4 separate regions of the Homo sapiens genome follow, and regions 2, 3 and 4 are each reported to be linked to region 1. The links are microRNA targets in miRTarBase. Many come from high-throughput screens and were not tested one by one. Region 1 holds a microRNA gene; each other region holds the end of a gene's coding sequence. Distances are from middle to middle.
What was found. The annotated mature microRNA hsa-miR-1294 reads UGUGAGGUUGGCAUUGUUGUCU and lies in region 1 at 1,745-1,766, shown strand. An mRNA with a match to its seed (bases 2 to 7 or 8) in the 3' UTR can be bound and repressed. Matches are read on the target gene's strand: a 7mer-m8 pairs with bases 2 to 8, a 7mer-A1 pairs with bases 2 to 7 and ends in A, and an 8mer does both.

Region 1 (4,521 bases):
TTTGAACTGAAAGTTTGTACCCTTTGACCCACATCTCCCTATTTCCCCCACCCGGAGCCCCTGGAAATCACCATTCTGCTCTGTAACTATGAGTTCAACTTTTTTTAGATTCCTCATATGAGTGAGATCATGCGGTATTTATCTTGTGTGTCTGGCCTATTTCACTTAGCATAATGTCCTCCAAGTTCATCCAGGTTGTTACAAGCAGCAAATTTCCACCTTTTTTTTTTTTTTTTTTTTTTTTAAGAAAGAGTTTCACTCTGTTGCCCAGGCTGGAGTGCAGTGCCCCAGTCATGGCTCACTGCAACCTTGACTTCTCTGGGCTCCAGCAATCCTCCCACCTCAGCCTCCTGAGTAGCTGGGACTACAGGCCTGCACCACTACACCCGGCGAATTTTTTTTTTTTTTGTATTTTTTGTAGAGCCAGGGTTTCACCATGTTGCCCAGGCTAGTCTTGAACTCTGGGGCTCAAGTGATCCACCCACCTCAGCCACCCAAAGTGCCTGGGACTACAGTTGTGCACCACCACACCCGCCTAATTTTTTTTTTTTTTTTTTTTTTTGTATTTTTTGAAGAGCCAGGGTTTCACCATGTTGCCTAGGCTGGTCTTGAACTCCTGGGCTCAAGTGATCCACCCACCTTAGCCACCCAAAGTGCCTGGGATTACAGGCATGAGCCACCATGCCTGGCTATTTCCTTCTTTTTTAAGGCTGAATAATATTCGTGTGTGCGTGTGTGTGTGTGTGTGTGTGTGAGATAGATACACACACACCACATTTTCTTTATTCATCTGTTGGTGGACACTTAGGTTGTTTCCATATCTTGGCTATTGGGAGTAGTACTGCAATGAACATGGCAGTACAGATATCTCTTAAGGATAGTGATTTTATTCTCTTTGGATATATATCCAGAAATGAGATTGCTGGATCATATGGTAGTTCTGTTTTTAACGTTTTGAGGAACCTCCATACTGTTTTCCATAATGGCTGTATGGAAAATATGAGCCAAAGCTCATTCTCTAATAACATTTCTTGACTAGTGCATTCAAGTATCTGCCCTGTCTTAACATTTTAGCTAATTGCTAACACAGCACATGCAGTACATACTTTCAGCAGGACTGAACATTTTTAGTCATCTAACAAAGACATTTCATCTCATGACAAGTTTTTTGGACATACCTCAATGTGCTGTGTCTGTAGCTAACTTAATTACAGGAGCCGCCTTGGCAGTACCAGGAACCAAATGTTATGACCAGCAACTCTCCTATAGGTAGTACTGCTTTTATAACAGTGTAAATCACAGTTGTGCCAATTTTTTTTTTAAAGAAGCTAAATGGAAGATTTAAACCTTAAGTTGTTTGGGCTTTGAATCCTTGTGTTCTTAGAACACAAGCTTTAGTCAGACAGCAGACTTTGAGCTAGTACTTAACCTCTCTGTGCCTGATTGAGTAAAACTGGGCTACTTTCTCAGAGTTTTATAGATTAATTGAGATATTTTGTGTAGAGAGCTTAGAACAGTGGCTGGCTCAGAGCATCTATCAACCTTGATACCATCATATTCCTTGCTAGGAAATTCTGTGTTTATTCATCCCTTCTTTTTCTTTCATCCTCCTTTCTAGTTCCACATTGAAGATCCCAAACTTAAACCATCATTAATAATAATATATGAGAACAGTAATAAATGTCACCATTTATTAACACCTAATGTGTGCCAAGATCTGTTCATTTATGATCTCACCGAGTCCTGTGAGGTTGGCATTGTTGTCTGGCATTGTCTGATATACAACAGTGCCAACCTCACAGGACTCAGTGAGGTGAAACTGAGGATTAGGAAGGTGTAAACTGGACAAGCGCATGGCAGAGTCAGAATCCAAACTCAAATTTATTTGGATCAAGAGTGATACACTATTATGCACTACTTCCTGTTACCTCCTATGTGGTGATAGGAATAACTTATAAGGATTTTTTTTTTTTTAGACAGGATCTTGCTCTGTCATTCAGGTTGAAGTGCAATGATGCAACCATAGCCCACTGCAGCCTCAAACTCCTGGGCTCAAGCAGTCATCCTACCTCGCCTCCCAAGTAACTGGGACTATAGGCATGCACCACCACACCCAGCTAATTTTTAATTTTTAGTAGAGACAAGGTCTCGCTGTGTTGCCCAGGCTGGTCTCAAATTCCTGAGCCCAAGTGATCCTCCCGCCTCTGCCTCCCAAGGTGCTGGGATTACAGGCGTGAGCCACCACCACACCCAGTCTACTTCTAAGGATTTAATGCCTTATGTTTTCTTCATTTATTTCTCATAGAACCATTCACTCTTAGCACTTTGACTTTGAAAATCAGGGACCAGGTTGAGCCAGACAAAATATTCACCTATAAGGAGAAGGAATGAAAAACCAGACATTTTTCTACTTGGCTATCAATCCCCAAGTTTGATTTGCTGAGAATTTTTTCCCCTCTAAAATAGAGTCTGATTTTCTTTCCCTTCAACCTTCATGTCACTGGAAAATTTTAAATTTAAATAGATCCTAAGGGGGTGGCTCAAGGCTCTCATTGAAGGTTTATTATCTGCTGGAAGGCTGTAATGTAATTGCAAGGTATCATTTAAAGAGCTGTCTGTCTGTGTGAACCACCTTGTTCTGAATACCTGTTCCTGCATAGAGCCAGAAGATGTACATTTATTTATCAGTGGTGGTTCATAGCTGCCTTAGATCAATCGTATTATTCTTCCTCCACGGCTCAAGCCCCAAAATAAATGGCTTGTGATGTACAGAGCGTTGAAATCATTTGTATATCATCAGTCATTTGTTTCTCTTCTGTCATTTGCATTTTGATGGACAGCCATATGTTTGGGGGATTTCATTTTTATTACAGCCTTTGGTCACATTGTCCATTTGTAATACCATCTTAGATATTAATTACCCCAATTAGAGAAGGCCCTTTCAAATATTACATCACCTCCAAGTCGCGCTATTCATACCATAAAGCTATAAATGCCAACTATTGTTTTATTCTTCCTTTTTGACACCTGCTTCTCTATGGAGAGGTATTCTTTCCCAGAGTTTGTCATCAGTGATAAGAGAAAATATCTTTGTGTAGAGGGGTAGGGAATTATTGTTTTTCCTCCATAAATACCTCATCAATTCAGTGGCATTGTGGAGTAGAACATCCATTAGTGACTTTTCTAGGTGTTGGTATGAGAACAAGTAGACAAGCTTTGGTTCCAGCCCTACCAGTAAATAAATAGCTTTGTGATCTTGAGCAAATTACATCACTTCTTTGTGCTTCAGTGTCTGCATCTACAAAGTATGGATGACTTCTAAGATCTTGTCAAGCTTTAAATCCTAGGACCCTATGATGACTTTCTTCACCTCTTCCCTAGAGTTTAAGAGTTATAAATTGATAACTTTTCAATGTCTTAATATCAGTTATATCTTTTTCTAAATCTTCTCCCTTACTGCAAACTCTTAGATGATGTTTACTTCTTGTCACCTCCAGTGTGTCTGTCCCTAGAAGGCTTGTACGCTTTCTAATTTGCCATTTCAATTCAGCTGGAATAAGAAACCCAGTTATTAGTTTTTCAAGTATTATCTAAAGTACGGGTTAAATAGATCCTAAGGGGGTGGCTCAAGGCTCTCACTTGAGGTTAGACTTTATGAGCCATGTTTAAGTGGCCACAGAGACAGCGAACCCTTTATTTATATTATTTTAAATAAAAATAATCAGGAAAGGCTTCCTAGATAGGTGTCATTGCCTAGTAAAGGAGGTTCCTTGGGCTAAGGGAACAGCATAAGCAAAAGCACTGAGGCAGGATGGTCTCTCAGCAGTCCTGAGCAGTGATTGTCAGGAGGCTGTACCTCCTGAGTTACTGTACCTCTGTCCTCCCTGCTGAGCCTGGAGATCATTTCCTGATCCCCAAGGAGACCCATAATCTGACAAAGATTCCAGGTAGAAAAAGTAGTCTGGGAGTTGTAATTTAAATTCTGAAATATCAGAATTTCCAGACATTTAAAAAATTTCTCCGGGCAAGGTGGTGTGTGCCTGTAGTCCTAGCTACTCCGGAGGCTGAGGCAGGAGAATAGCTTGAGCCCAGGAGTTTGGGGCTTTAGTGCACTATGCTGATCGGGTATCTGCACTAAGTTTGGCATCAATAAGGTGACCTCCTAGGAGCAGGGGACCACCAAGTTGCCTAAAGAGGAGGGAACCAGCCTGATTGGAAACAAAGCAGGTCAAAACTCCTGTGCTGATCAGTAGTGGGATTGTGCTTATGAATAGCCACTGCACTCCAGCCTAGGCAACATAGCAAGACCCCATCTCTGAAAAAAAAAAATTTTTTTTAGCTTTCAGTATGTTAGTGTTTATGAGTCAGTGGGAACAGACTATTTGAAATTAGAGCTGAGACCAGTAATGCAGGATGTCTGGTCACCGTGGTTATCAGTTATAGAAGAACCATAAGCCCTGGTCCCTCCTGAATTCCAGGAGCTGTGTTGTCTGTTACAGTAGCCACTAGCCACACATGGCT
Region 2 (4,000 bases), not on the chromosome of region 1:
ACTGGTCATTTGGTACTGAAGGGTGGCAGTGAAGATGGACAGATTTGACAGATAGGTTCGAGAGGAATCTGGGAGGTAAAATTAATGGGGCTTGGTGATGACCTCAATTTTGGAGTGAGAAAGAACGGATGTGTGGAGCATGTTCAAGCAGTGAATCATCTAGTCATGAGGTAGAAACAAAAGAAAACTATAGAAAGGGTTACCTCCACTCTCAGCAATAGCATTGAAATATTCCCTGCTCATGGCTGGCGGGGGAGTGGGGGGGGGTGGGCAGGAAGACAGGGAGGAGGGAGGGGATTGGCAGGGCCACAAAGCAAATCTCACATTGCCCTTCGAGAGCTCACATTTTACCATAGCCAAACAACATGAAAATCAAAGTGATAGGTGGCCAGGTGAGGTGGCTCTCGCCTGTAATCCCAGCACTTTGGGAGGCCAAGGCAGGTGGATCACCTGAGGTCAGGAGGTCAAGACCCGCCTGGCCAACATGGTGAAACCCCGTCTCTACTTAACATATAAAATTAGCTGGGCATGGTGACATGCATCTGTAATCCCAGCTACTCCGGAGGCTGAGGCAGGAGAATCGCTTGAACCTGGGAGGCAGAGGTTGCAGTGAGCCAAGATCATGCCATTGCACTCCAGCATGGGCAACAGAGCAAGACTTCACCTAAAAAAAACAAAAAACAAAAAAACCCTCACATCTTACAATAGCTGAACAACATGAAAAACAAACAAAATGATAGGTGGCCAGGCACGGTGGCTCACACCTGTAATCCCAGCACTTTGGGAGGCTGAGGCAGGCAGATCACCTGAGGTGAGGAGTTCGAGACTAGGTGTGATCTCAGCTCACTGCAGCCTCCATTTCCTGGGTTCAAGTGATTCTCCTGCCTCAGCCTCCCAAATTGGTGGGATTACAGGCACATGCCACCACACCTGGATAATTTTTGTATTTTTAGTATAGGTGGGGTTTTGCCATGTTGGCCAGGCTGGTCTCAAACTCCTGACCTCAGGTGGTCCACCCGCCTCGGCCTCCTAGAGTGCTGGGATTACAGGTGTGAGCCACTGCACCCGGCCTGAATCTGCATTTCTAAAAAGTTCCCAGATAATGCTGATGCTACTGGACTGGGCTCACAGTTTGAGAACCACTGCACTGGATTAACTAAAAAAAATTTTCTGGTCAATTATCTAATGATGCTTTCAAAAACTGAGGTAAGGTTATCAGCTGAGTTCTATCCTTCATGAGCCACAGCACTCAGATGGCATTCCATATAATGGAAGAGAATGAAAGAAAAGAAACCTTTAATCCACCACTTTGCACTCTAAAAAGTGATAACTACCCAGCTCCCTCCTTAACCCCTTGCATTTGCGCTCACTCCTCCACCCCCATTCCACCAGGATCAAGGACCCCAGCACAGGTTCTTGCAAAGCTCCCTACAACTTAGACTACACCCTCCATCATTTCCAAATTCAGACTGGTTTAATGGATATAATATGGGTCCTCCAGTCCTGTAATGTCTCACAGGCACTGTAACAAATCCCAGAGCTGGTCTGTTGTTGCAGAGGAGGACTGCAGGCTGGAAATCTAGTGACTTGCAGCCAAATCTGGCTCTTCTGTTAACTACGTGGCCCATGATGAGTCATGTCATTTAGCATTTTTACGCCCTAATTTTTCAACAGTTTTTTTTTTTTTTAATCCCTCACTATGAGAGAAAAAGGAATACCTAAAGAAATATTAGCCAAAATTTTCTTGGAAAAAAGACATTAGCAACAGAATTATAACATAGAGATATTACATTTATAGTTAACCAACAAAGTGTGTGTGTGTGTGTGTGTGTGTGTGTGTGTGTGTGTATTTTTAGATCCTCACAACAACCTTGTGAGGTAGGTAAAACTTGAGGCTGGGAGAAGATGAAAGTCTGGCCAAATTAAGCGTCAGGGCCAGGACTCAAATACTTTACCTTCTCAATGAAGTCGGTGTTCTTTCCAACACACTTGCCGTCCCTCAATTTATTTCAATTGAATGTAGGAATGTACTAGTGCATAACCTGGATGGCCCTAAAAGGATCAGAGAATTATATTAACCTAAAACTAAATGGCCAATGACCCAGCAAATTAGAAAACAAGAGTTGCTTCCTTCAGCTAAATGCCAGGGAGGATCCCTGTAATATCATTTGACATTCTCAGCAATTTTGCTTCCACAATTTTATAGTCCTCTACCAGGTCCCTCTGGCTTGTTCATTGTAGGATATTTTCTCTGTGTCAGATGACAGCAAACCTCTGGTAGATACACTGCCATACACTGCCATTTAAAAGAGCTTCTGAAATTCTTTCAGCCTCCAAGTCACAAGACCGCAAACATCCTCTACGATAATTTGGCCTTGTCATGGCAGTGAGACCTCTGGTGACTAATGCCTGCACAGCACTGAACTGGCAGTGCATTTCCATTTTATTCAATTTGTGTATTCCAACCCCAAACCTTCTAGTTCCAATCTAATTTCTTTCACGTTCTGAGTTTGGGGCGGGGGGACTACACTAATAAATTTCTAATTGAGTAATAAGACTGATAAAAGCCACCAATCTTGTACTGAGTGTCTTTTAAGGGCCAGGTACTGCATTAAAGCCTTTATATAAGACCTCAACTATTAATCATTAATAATGATGGGACCATTTAGTTATTGAGCATCTATGTTGTGCCAGGCACTGTACTAGGTGGTGAACATGTGATCTCTAGGCCACATTTTTCTCACTTCTCATTTAGTAACTAGGCATCAACTTTTTAATTTTTTTGGAGACAGAGTCTCTCTCTGTTGCCCAGGCTGGAGTGCAGTGGCATGATCTCAACTCACTGCAACCTGCACCTTCTGAGTTCAAATGATTCTTCTGCCTCGGCCTCCCGAGTAGCTGGGACTACAGGCACGTGCCACCATGCCCAGCTAATTTTTGCATTTTTAGTAGAGATGAGGTTTCACCATGCTCACCAGGCTGGTCTCAACTCCTGACCTCAAGTGATCCACCCACCTTGGCCTCCCAAAAGTGCTGGGATTACAGGGGTGAGCCACCACGCCTGGCGGGCATCAACTATTAAACTCACATTTCCCTAAGAGTCAGTCACACACTGAAGGAATGCCTTTTGTATTCGGACCGTTATTTGGACCCTTTAAGTTTATCCTCTCTGTTATAACATAGACAAGAAAGAGGGAGAATAGATCAGGGCCCAAATTGAGCCACTGACGCCCAGGTTTTCTCTATTTGGGGTGCTTGAAGACAGTAGCAATGAAAATGTGCAAGGGAGCAGCTGAACACCAAAGACTACTTCCTAAATCAAATGGGTGTTTTGATGGCATAAAAGATGCGCTTTCTGACGGAAGCTCTTGTTACATTTACTACAGTGGAAAGGTTTTTCTCCTGTATGCGTTCTCTGGTGTGTGAGGAAATGGGAACGCTGATTGAAGGTCTTGCCACACTCAGGACATCGATAGGGCCTGTCTCCTAAGTGGATTCGCTGATGGGTAATAAAGTGGGAGCTCTGATTGAAGCTCTTCCCACACTCTCCACATTTGTAGGGTCTTTCTCCGGTGTGGATTCGTTGGTGCTTAATGAGGGCGGAGCTGTCGGCGAATCCTTTCCCACAGTTTTCGCACTTAAAAGGTCTCTCACCTGTGTGTGTTCTTTGGTGCGTGACCAAATGTGAGCTCTGACTGAAGCTTTTGTGGCAGTCAGGACAACTGAAAGGCCTCTCTCCTGAATGAGTGCTCATGTGAGCTACAAAATGAGAACTATCTCTGAAGCCCTTCCCGCACTCCGGGCATTTGAAGGGCCGTTCTCCCGTGTGGGTTCGTTGGTGCTTAATCAAATCCGAGCTCTGGCTAAAACTCTCCCCACAGTCATTACACCTGTAAGGCTTCACCCCTGTGTGGGTCCTCTGGTGAGTGATGAAATTTGAGCTTCGACTGAAGCTTTTGTGACATTCCAGGCACGCGTAGGGCTTCTCGCCTGTGTGGGT
Region 3 (4,000 bases), not on the chromosome of region 1:
TCCCCTACCTACCTCCATGGTTTCCTCAGCCTTCAGCCCATTCTAAAGGTGCCCGACCCTAGCTAATCTTCCCTTTTGACCCCAATGCCTTTAAAATCAGAGCTGGTATTTTAGGAAACAATGATTACAGGGCACTGCCAAGGAAAAATTCCAGGCCTCTTGTCCTTCCCATGGTCCTTTCCCCAACTATGTCTTGCTCTGTACTTCTAAGCAACCCCCTCTCAGGCTACCCCCTCACCATTACCAATGGCTATAGCTTTATCCCAAACCATGCTCATTTTCAGAAAGGTGTTTAGTATGTGAGCAGTTTTGCATCCAGAAAACTGGCAGGGCTGTATGACCAGAAACTGCAGCTCATTGGTTAGATAAACCCAGAGTTCTGACCACATAGTTAGTCAGTTATGCCTCAGGCCCCAGGGACCACCAAGGGTAAGAAGTTAGGGAGGGGATAATAGGAATCAGACTAGCCACGTGGAAGGTCACATCACATTTCTTTTTTGTCTCCTTACCCCTATAGGGCTTAGGATGAAGATTTTATATATTTAGATACAAATCTCAGCCAAGCATGGTGGCTCATGCCTATAATCCCGGCACTTTGGGTGGCTGTCGGGGGCGGATTGCTTGAGTCCAGGAGTTAAAGACCAGCCTGGCCAACATAGCAAAACTCTGTCTCTAAAAAAAAAAAAATTAGCCAGGCGTGGTAGCACACGCCTATAGTCCCAGCTACTCGGGAGGCTAAGGTGGAAGGATCACCTCAGCCTGGGAGGTTGAGGCTAGAGTGAGCCATGATCATGCCACTGCACTCCAGCTTGAATGACAGAGTGAGACCCTGTTTCAAAAAAAAAAATTAGCTGTGCGTGGTGGCGCGTACCTAGTAGTCCCAACTACTGAGCTGTGGTTGCACCACTGCACTCCAGCCTAGACAACAAAGTGAGACCCTATCTTTAAAAAATAATAATAATTATTATATACAATATATAACTATATAATATATAATTATGTTATATATTATATGTATATTATATATAATATATAATTATGTTATATATTATATGTATATTATATATAATATATAATTATGTTATATATTATATGTATATTATATATAATATATAATTATGTTACATATTATATGTATATTATATATAATATATAATTATGTTATATATTATATGTATATTATATATAATATATAATTGTTATATATTATATGTATATTATATATAATATATAATTATACATTATATATTATATAATTATTAGATACAAATCTTACACAAGGTCCTAGGCAGCTTTAGCCCCTGCCAGTCTCAATATTCAAACAGTCATATGTGAGGGCATAAAAATGCACAAGGACACAGACACACATACAAGAAATGTACAACCAGTGTTCGCTTCCTAACCTAAATCCCAAAGAATTTTAACTATAATGGTCCCAATTCCAAACAATCTATGTATCTTCCATCCCCACCAGAAACCAAGAAGTTAACTTCCCTCACCTGTCAGGAACACCAGGGGCAAGAACAGGTGAGTGACGAAGGGGAGTTCCATGCCTGATCGGTTTCTGTCCAGTATGAGAAGTCCTCTGGCCTCTGTCCCTCTCCTTTTCTGTTTTCTTCACTTTCCCTCCCATCCTGCCCCCTCCCAATGGCAGCTAAAAATAAAGTTGGAAGGAATGGGAGGAGTGATGGTGGGGAACTGTGGGGAGCCCCAGACCAAGGAAAACACTGAGCGATCTTAGTCTATTTCTCTGCCTTGGTGCTGCCCCCTGGAGGCCTCATCTCTATATCCAGAGAACATATTTTTTTGCCCATTTCTGCTATTTCTTTTTTTCTACTGTTTATTGTTGCCAGGTCAATAATGCTTTCCTCAAATTTGGAACAGGAGTGGGAGATGGATTCTTTTTTATAAGAAAAGAATCTTAAACTTTTGTTTAAAAGTTTTAGACAAATTATTTATATTGAGAATACAGACAGGGTTTCACTATGTTACCCAGGCTGGTCTTGAACTCCTGAACTCAAGGAATCCTCCCACCTCAGCCTCCCAAAGTGAGCCACTGCACCCAGCTGGGAGATAGGAGATAGATTCAGATTTTTTTTTTTCTTTTTTAAGGCAGAGTCTCACTCTGTCACCCAGGCTGGAGTGCAGTGGCACAATCTTGGCTCACTGCAACCTCTGTCTCCCACGTTCAAGCATTTCTCATGCCTCAGCCTCCCAGGTAGCTGGGACTACAGGCACATGCCACCATGCCTGGCTAATTTTTTATTTTTAGTAGAGGCAGGGTTTCACCATGTTGGCCAGGCTGGTCTTGAACTCCTGACCTTAAGAGATCCACCTGCCTCGGCCTCCCAAAGTGCTGGGATTACCGGCGTGAGCCACCACGCCTGGCCGATAGATTCACTTCCTAACCTTATTTATCTCAACCTGGAATATGGAAAATGAAAGAGCTGATAGCAGTGGTATCATTTCCCTACCCACCCAGGGGAGTCTCAACTTGTGAAGACACAGCTCCAAATCCTTACCAGCCCCACTCCACTTGGTTCTGTCCTTGGCTCTTAGCCTATGCTGTCATATGGCATTCTGCTTCTTAGAGGGATTATATCTGAACTGGTATGAGATGTGCTTTGTGGAGCCAGGACAATAACTTTAGTATTAGACCACTCCTCTGCCACCCCAACTCCTCAGCTAGGTTATAAACTTCTTAAAGTTGGGAGTGTGGAGCTTCTTAGATTTTTGGATGCCCACTAAGTATGTTGCTTTACATACTGTAGGTGCTCAAGAAAAATAATGTGGGTGATGTTAGTGGCTAATCCCGAGAAAAACCCAAACCACAGTGACAGGAATAGGGGCCTCAAATTACCAAAAAATGAGGGACCAGACCAAATGTCGATGAGCAAACTGAACTTTAATTTGCTTACCTGAAAGGCTTGCTCTTCATTATTGGCATAGGCCACAGCTATTTACACAGAATCATTGTACAGGATTTACAGCAAGATGCTACACATAGCATCATTCTGGATAAGCGACAAAGGAGTAAGAACAGACTGGGGAATAAAGCTCTGAAATCAAAGTGTAAGCAGAAATCTGAAGGTAGGTGTACAAGGAAGGATAAGGGCCAAATGATGAGCGAGGTTGGTGAGGTAGACATAAGGGAGGAAGAGGAAACATCCAACAACTTGTGGTGCAGAGATATAAGGGAAGAGTCCACTGGCACATAGTCTTAAAAATTATGTTTGGAGTTTGAAGGAGGAAAAATCTGCCATAAGCCACCTCTGTGAGAAAAAAGAAGGCAGTTAGAACCTTACAGGCCAAACCTTATACCTCCCCTATCAAAAAGTAATTCTGCTGATTAAATCCCTGGATAGGAGAATGAGAAGGTTGAAAAAAGAAAGAGAGAGATGCATAGACACAGAACCTTAAACAGAGTTAAGAGACACAAAGTAAATATATTCAAGAGAGACACAAAGAAAGAGGAAAAGAACAGAAGCTCAGGCACATCTAGAAATTAGAGACATCCTATTAACTTCACGAGTCATCTTTCCTTACCTCATCTTCCCCAAAGCTCTTCCTCCACCCCTAAATCTCTGAATTTCTAACTTTAACCAAAGAGTAGAATTCGAATGAGGCTGGCACATGGGGGACGATCTAAGATTCCATCTCACCAATTCAGGTCCCCTCCTTATCCTGTACCGGAAGGTCAGGGCTTGAGTCGTAGCCAGGGATAGATTAGGGTGAGAATAGACAGGATGGAGGACACGAGGCCACAAAGCCCCACAATCCCAGGGCCACAGCGCCAGAGGCCTAGTTTGTCCAGAGGAATGAAGAGATCACAGGCATTTCTGACCACGTCTAGCAGAAGTGGGGGATGACCTCTAAGGACTCGAGCCAGGAGCAGGACTTGCAGCCGAAGTTTCAGAGCCAGTTGGGGCAGACCTCCTCCTGGAGTCCCTGGTCCCCCAAGTCCCCCAGTTTCACTTCCTCCTGGGACTCCTCCTCCAGA
Region 4 (4,000 bases), 20 Mb from region 1:
ATGCCCAGCTAATTTTTGTATTTTTAGTAGAAACGGAGTTTCACCATATTGGCCAGGGTGGTCTCAAACTCCTGACCTCAGGTGATCTGCCCGCCTCGGCCTCCCAAAGTTTTGGGATTACAGGCATGAGCCACCACACCTGGACTTTTTTTTTTTTTTTTAGATGGAGTTTTGCTCTTGTTCCCCAAGCTGGAGTGCAATGGCACGATCTGGGATCACTGCAACCTCGGCCAGGGTTCAAGCGATTCTCCTGCCTCAGCCTCCCAAGTAGCTGGGATTACAGGCATGCGCCACCATGCCTGGCTAAGTTTTTGTACTTTTAGTAGAAATGGGGTTTCACCATATTGGCCAGGCTGGTCTCGAACTCCTGACCTCAGGTGATCCACCTGCCTTGGCCTCCCAAAGTGCTAGGATTACAGGCGTGAGCCACCACGCCCAGCCTACTTTTAAAAACTATTTTGTAGAGACAAGTTTTCGCCACCTGGCCCAGACAGGTCTTCAACTCCAGGCCTCAAGTGATCCTTACACCTGGGCCTCCCAAACTGCTGGGATTACAGGTGTGGGCCACCATACCAGGCTCATATCACTTTAAATAACTAGTCACTATATATAAGCTCTTTTCAATTAACTTTATTGAATAGCCAAGTTGATAAGTTAGCATAGATCAAACAATGGTCTGCATGGGTTACAAATGACTTTTTTTTTTTTTTAACAGGAATAAAACAGTGAAAATTACAAACTGTAAAAAGGAAGACAAATCTTGTCTCCAACTTTTCAGAGAAGCAAGATTTAACACAGCACATTGAAGATCAATACATATTTGAATTTAAGAACAAGAATTTAATATTACAATATTATACACTACTTTACAAAATTAAAATTTCTATATAAGGATTACATTTGTAATAGTTAACAAAATTTTGAAATCACATTTGGTGGTCCCCTAGATAATAGCTGTTATGCATCTTTGATTAGAAGAAATAAATCTTTATTCTAATTATTGCAAAACAGTCTATTAGACTCAATACATTAAATTAAAAACAGTGAAAATATATGCAAACTAAAATAAATGGTACTGCTTGAGTGACTATTAGTATGTCAGACTTACAGAAATGTTATTTTAAAAATCCTAGAAATTAGAAAAATAGAGTACTTTTTATGGTAGAACTGCCATGCTCAGATTTAAATACCAAGATTGCCCTTGTCTGTTACATTAGTAGTTGTAGATCTGTAGAAAATTCAAGGATCTTTCATAATTTACAACTATAATTAAAAAAAATATGGCATAGTGTAAATATTAGTCGCTTTACATCAAAAAGTAATACAAGATGATATGGCAGGTAGTGCCCTATTGGGGGAAAAAAAAAGAATCAAACTAAAAAACACATTCAACATTGCAAAAAATAATTGCCTTATATCAGTATCTCCAAAGGCTCATTCATTCTCTCATTATGTGGAGAACAAATATTGTGAATCCTAACTAAAGTTATGTTTTTCATGACCTGTTATAAAATTATTCTGAATTGCACATGTTACACCGTATCTAAAATAATATTTAAAAGTAAATTTGTGAAATATACTAAAAAAGCATGTGGTAATAACAAGAGTCATACCCACTTAGGGATGTAGTGAGGCACAAGGAAGATTATCCCTAAAAGCACAAATGTTTCCCTCTAGAAGATTCTTTACTACTAAGAAAGGACCTACAAATAACTCCATTTAAAATCACATTAAGAGGAACATTTTAGTTATTTTAAGAAACATCAGCATATAACGACTGTTTCTTTAAAAGAGGGGATAATATAATTCGCTACAATTTGAAAATTGCTTCTTAATAGATGAAGCAGCTTTCAAGAAAACTTCCAGTTCAATGTGCCACTTACACACTGCAAACCAACCTTAACACTGCTTAAGGGAGATATTTTCATAAAACATGATTATTTTGATCCAGCTGGCAAGCAGTAGTTGTATACTGTAGAGGGACTGCTTCTTCCCTATCCCAAACAACTCAGTTAAAGTCAGCTCATATTGATATAAACCTGGAAGTTACTATTCCATTGGTGATCATATAAGACCAAGATTGTAAACATTTTCTAACCCATTAAAACAAAACAAAAAACCCAAAAATATTTTGATCAAGTATTATACATGAACATATTTAAGAAATTCTTAAGACAAAATGAATCTGTGAAAACTGAGCCAAACTCTTAAAGATACTATGTCACAGCACTTTAAATATACAAATGTATAATTTACCTATTTGTAAACAAAATTCACTCAATAGTTTTGACTATAATATTTCTCTAGCTGAATCAAGAAAGCAGTCTCTTAAGGATTTTCAGAAGTCAAGTTTCTTTCATAACTTTAATATGTTGGATGTGTATAATCTTAATATCCACCAAATCAAACAGCAGCATTTATGCTTTCATAGATTTTCATATTCAAGCATAAATATTTCTTATGAATGACTTCCAATTTAACAATTAAACTCCTTAGAAAAATGTTACTGATGTATTTGGATAGCACTTTAGAAACCTTTCATTTCTTCACTCATTTCACCAAAAACCCCCACTTTTATTATATACCCAGAGCAGAAATGCACCAAATAAAATCCACTTAAAGGATCAAGATAATTAAAGTTTCTTATCTCCCTATTATCATTGCTAGTCCCAGTGTTTATGAAGACAGCTCAAATTCTTTTCACTATAGATTAAGACAGTATGTCCAACTCTTCATCAGGAAATCAGAAAACCACCTAATGATAGTTCTCACTTCAAATCAAAGTGACTTTGTTCTTCAAGCATAAAGAATACTGACAGATTTTAAAGCTTGAATGTGTTTCTTCATATTTTTCTCAAGCTATACTAGAATTAGTTTAGTTTTAGTCAACATGATCCTTTCCCTTAACAAAGAAAAAAAAAAGACACGTGTGGGGAATGAATTCTAGTTTTCCTACATTATATTTACTTTCCATTGTTTTTATTTTAAAAACATCACTACCAATCAATTTGTAACTTCCCTGCAACACTTAGGTTTGTGAGGTTTTAAATGTAGCAGCCAAAGATTCAGAAAAATTAAAAATGAGAAATATACATGTAGAACACAGAAATCTTTATTTTACAAAATGTACTTTGCCTCTGCAATATTCTTATTTTAATCCATAACAACTCAAACATAATTGGCAAGAAAAAAGTATCCAATCATACGTAGCTATATTCTGATTTGAAAAATACAGTATTTCAGAGTTGCATGTTTGATTCTCTGCTGTGGTCTTTTATTTGCTATAGGTTGTTGAAATCACAGTGAGAACATCTCAATCATCACATTAGTCCACAAACATAATAGAAAAAGAAGGTATTACACATTTCCAGGTATTCTGCACTATCGTGACATTCCTTAAAAATAAGTCAAATTTCTTCATTCATTCATTTATTCACTTGTTGCTGTATATGCAACAGGAATTCATAATATGATAATGCAGATTCTGTTCTGTCTTCTATCATGTTTTGAAGGAAGTTTGCTTTCATTGGACTCTCATCCCTTAGGAATAAAAGGCAAAAAAATTTAGATAAAATGTAGCAGTAAAATAGACTTGTCAGAAGGCTTTTGATTTCCTCATAACCCTAATAACATTTACTATATAAACAGTTACTTCTAGAGGCTTTCTCTGAGAATACTTGGTTGATTATGTAAATTTCAAGTTGTTTAAGGGAAAAGCTTATGGTGGAATTAAGAGAAATAGTTGATCCAGAAATTCCATTTCTGAATATATATCCAAAGGAATTGAAATCAGTATATCAAAGAGATGTCTGCACTTCCATGATCACTGCAGCATTAATCACAATAGCCACGATATGGAAATAACTGAATGGATTTTTCAAATGTGGTATATATATACAATGGAATTCTACCGAGCCTTTTTTTTTTTTTTGAGATGGAGTTTTACTCTTGTTGCCCAGGCTGGAGTGCAATGGCACGATCCTGGCTCACCACAACCTCC

Region 2: the mRNA of ZNF774 is a reported target of hsa-miR-1294. Seed matches in the 3' UTR shown: 8mer at 1,873-1,880.
Region 3: miRTarBase lists PEX11B as a target of hsa-miR-1294. Seed matches in the 3' UTR shown: 7mer-m8 at 3,136-3,142.
Region 4: the mRNA of SEC24A is a reported target of hsa-miR-1294. Seed matches in the 3' UTR shown: 8mer at 3,036-3,043.

Annotation. Positions count from the first base shown.
Region 1 is chr5:154,345,409-154,349,929 of GRCh38, forward strand. MIR1294 (microRNA 1294) reads left to right here and starts at 1,698; the gene lies at 1,698-1,839. All of the region lies in intron 4 of GALNT10 (polypeptide N-acetylgalactosaminyltransferase 10), which reads left to right. It also overlaps the pseudogene RN7SL655P.
Region 2 is chr15:90,360,597-90,364,596 of GRCh38, reverse strand. It overlaps ZNF774 (zinc finger protein 774), which reads right to left. Exons shown (of 4, transcript NM_001004309.3): 4 at 1,750-4,000. The coding sequence ends at 3,314. Among named protein-coding and RNA genes, the nearest start is that of ZNF774, 10 kb to the right of the region's middle. RefSeq lists a silencer at 1,426-1,720.
Region 3 is chr1:145,908,464-145,912,463 of GRCh38, forward strand. It overlaps PEX11B (peroxisomal biogenesis factor 11 beta), which reads right to left. Exons shown (of 4, transcript NM_003846.3): 4 at 2,887-4,000. The coding sequence ends at 3,698. It overlaps ITGA10 (integrin subunit alpha 10), which reads right to left and starts at 1,587. Exons shown (of 30, transcript NM_003637.5): 1 at 1,500-1,587. The coding sequence starts at 1,551.
Region 4 is chr5:134,724,520-134,728,519 of GRCh38, reverse strand. It overlaps SEC24A (SEC24 homolog A, COPII component), which reads right to left. Exons shown (of 23, transcript NM_021982.3): 23 at 611-3,540. The coding sequence ends at 3,426. Among named protein-coding and RNA genes, the nearest start is that of CAMLG, 12 kb to the left of the region's middle.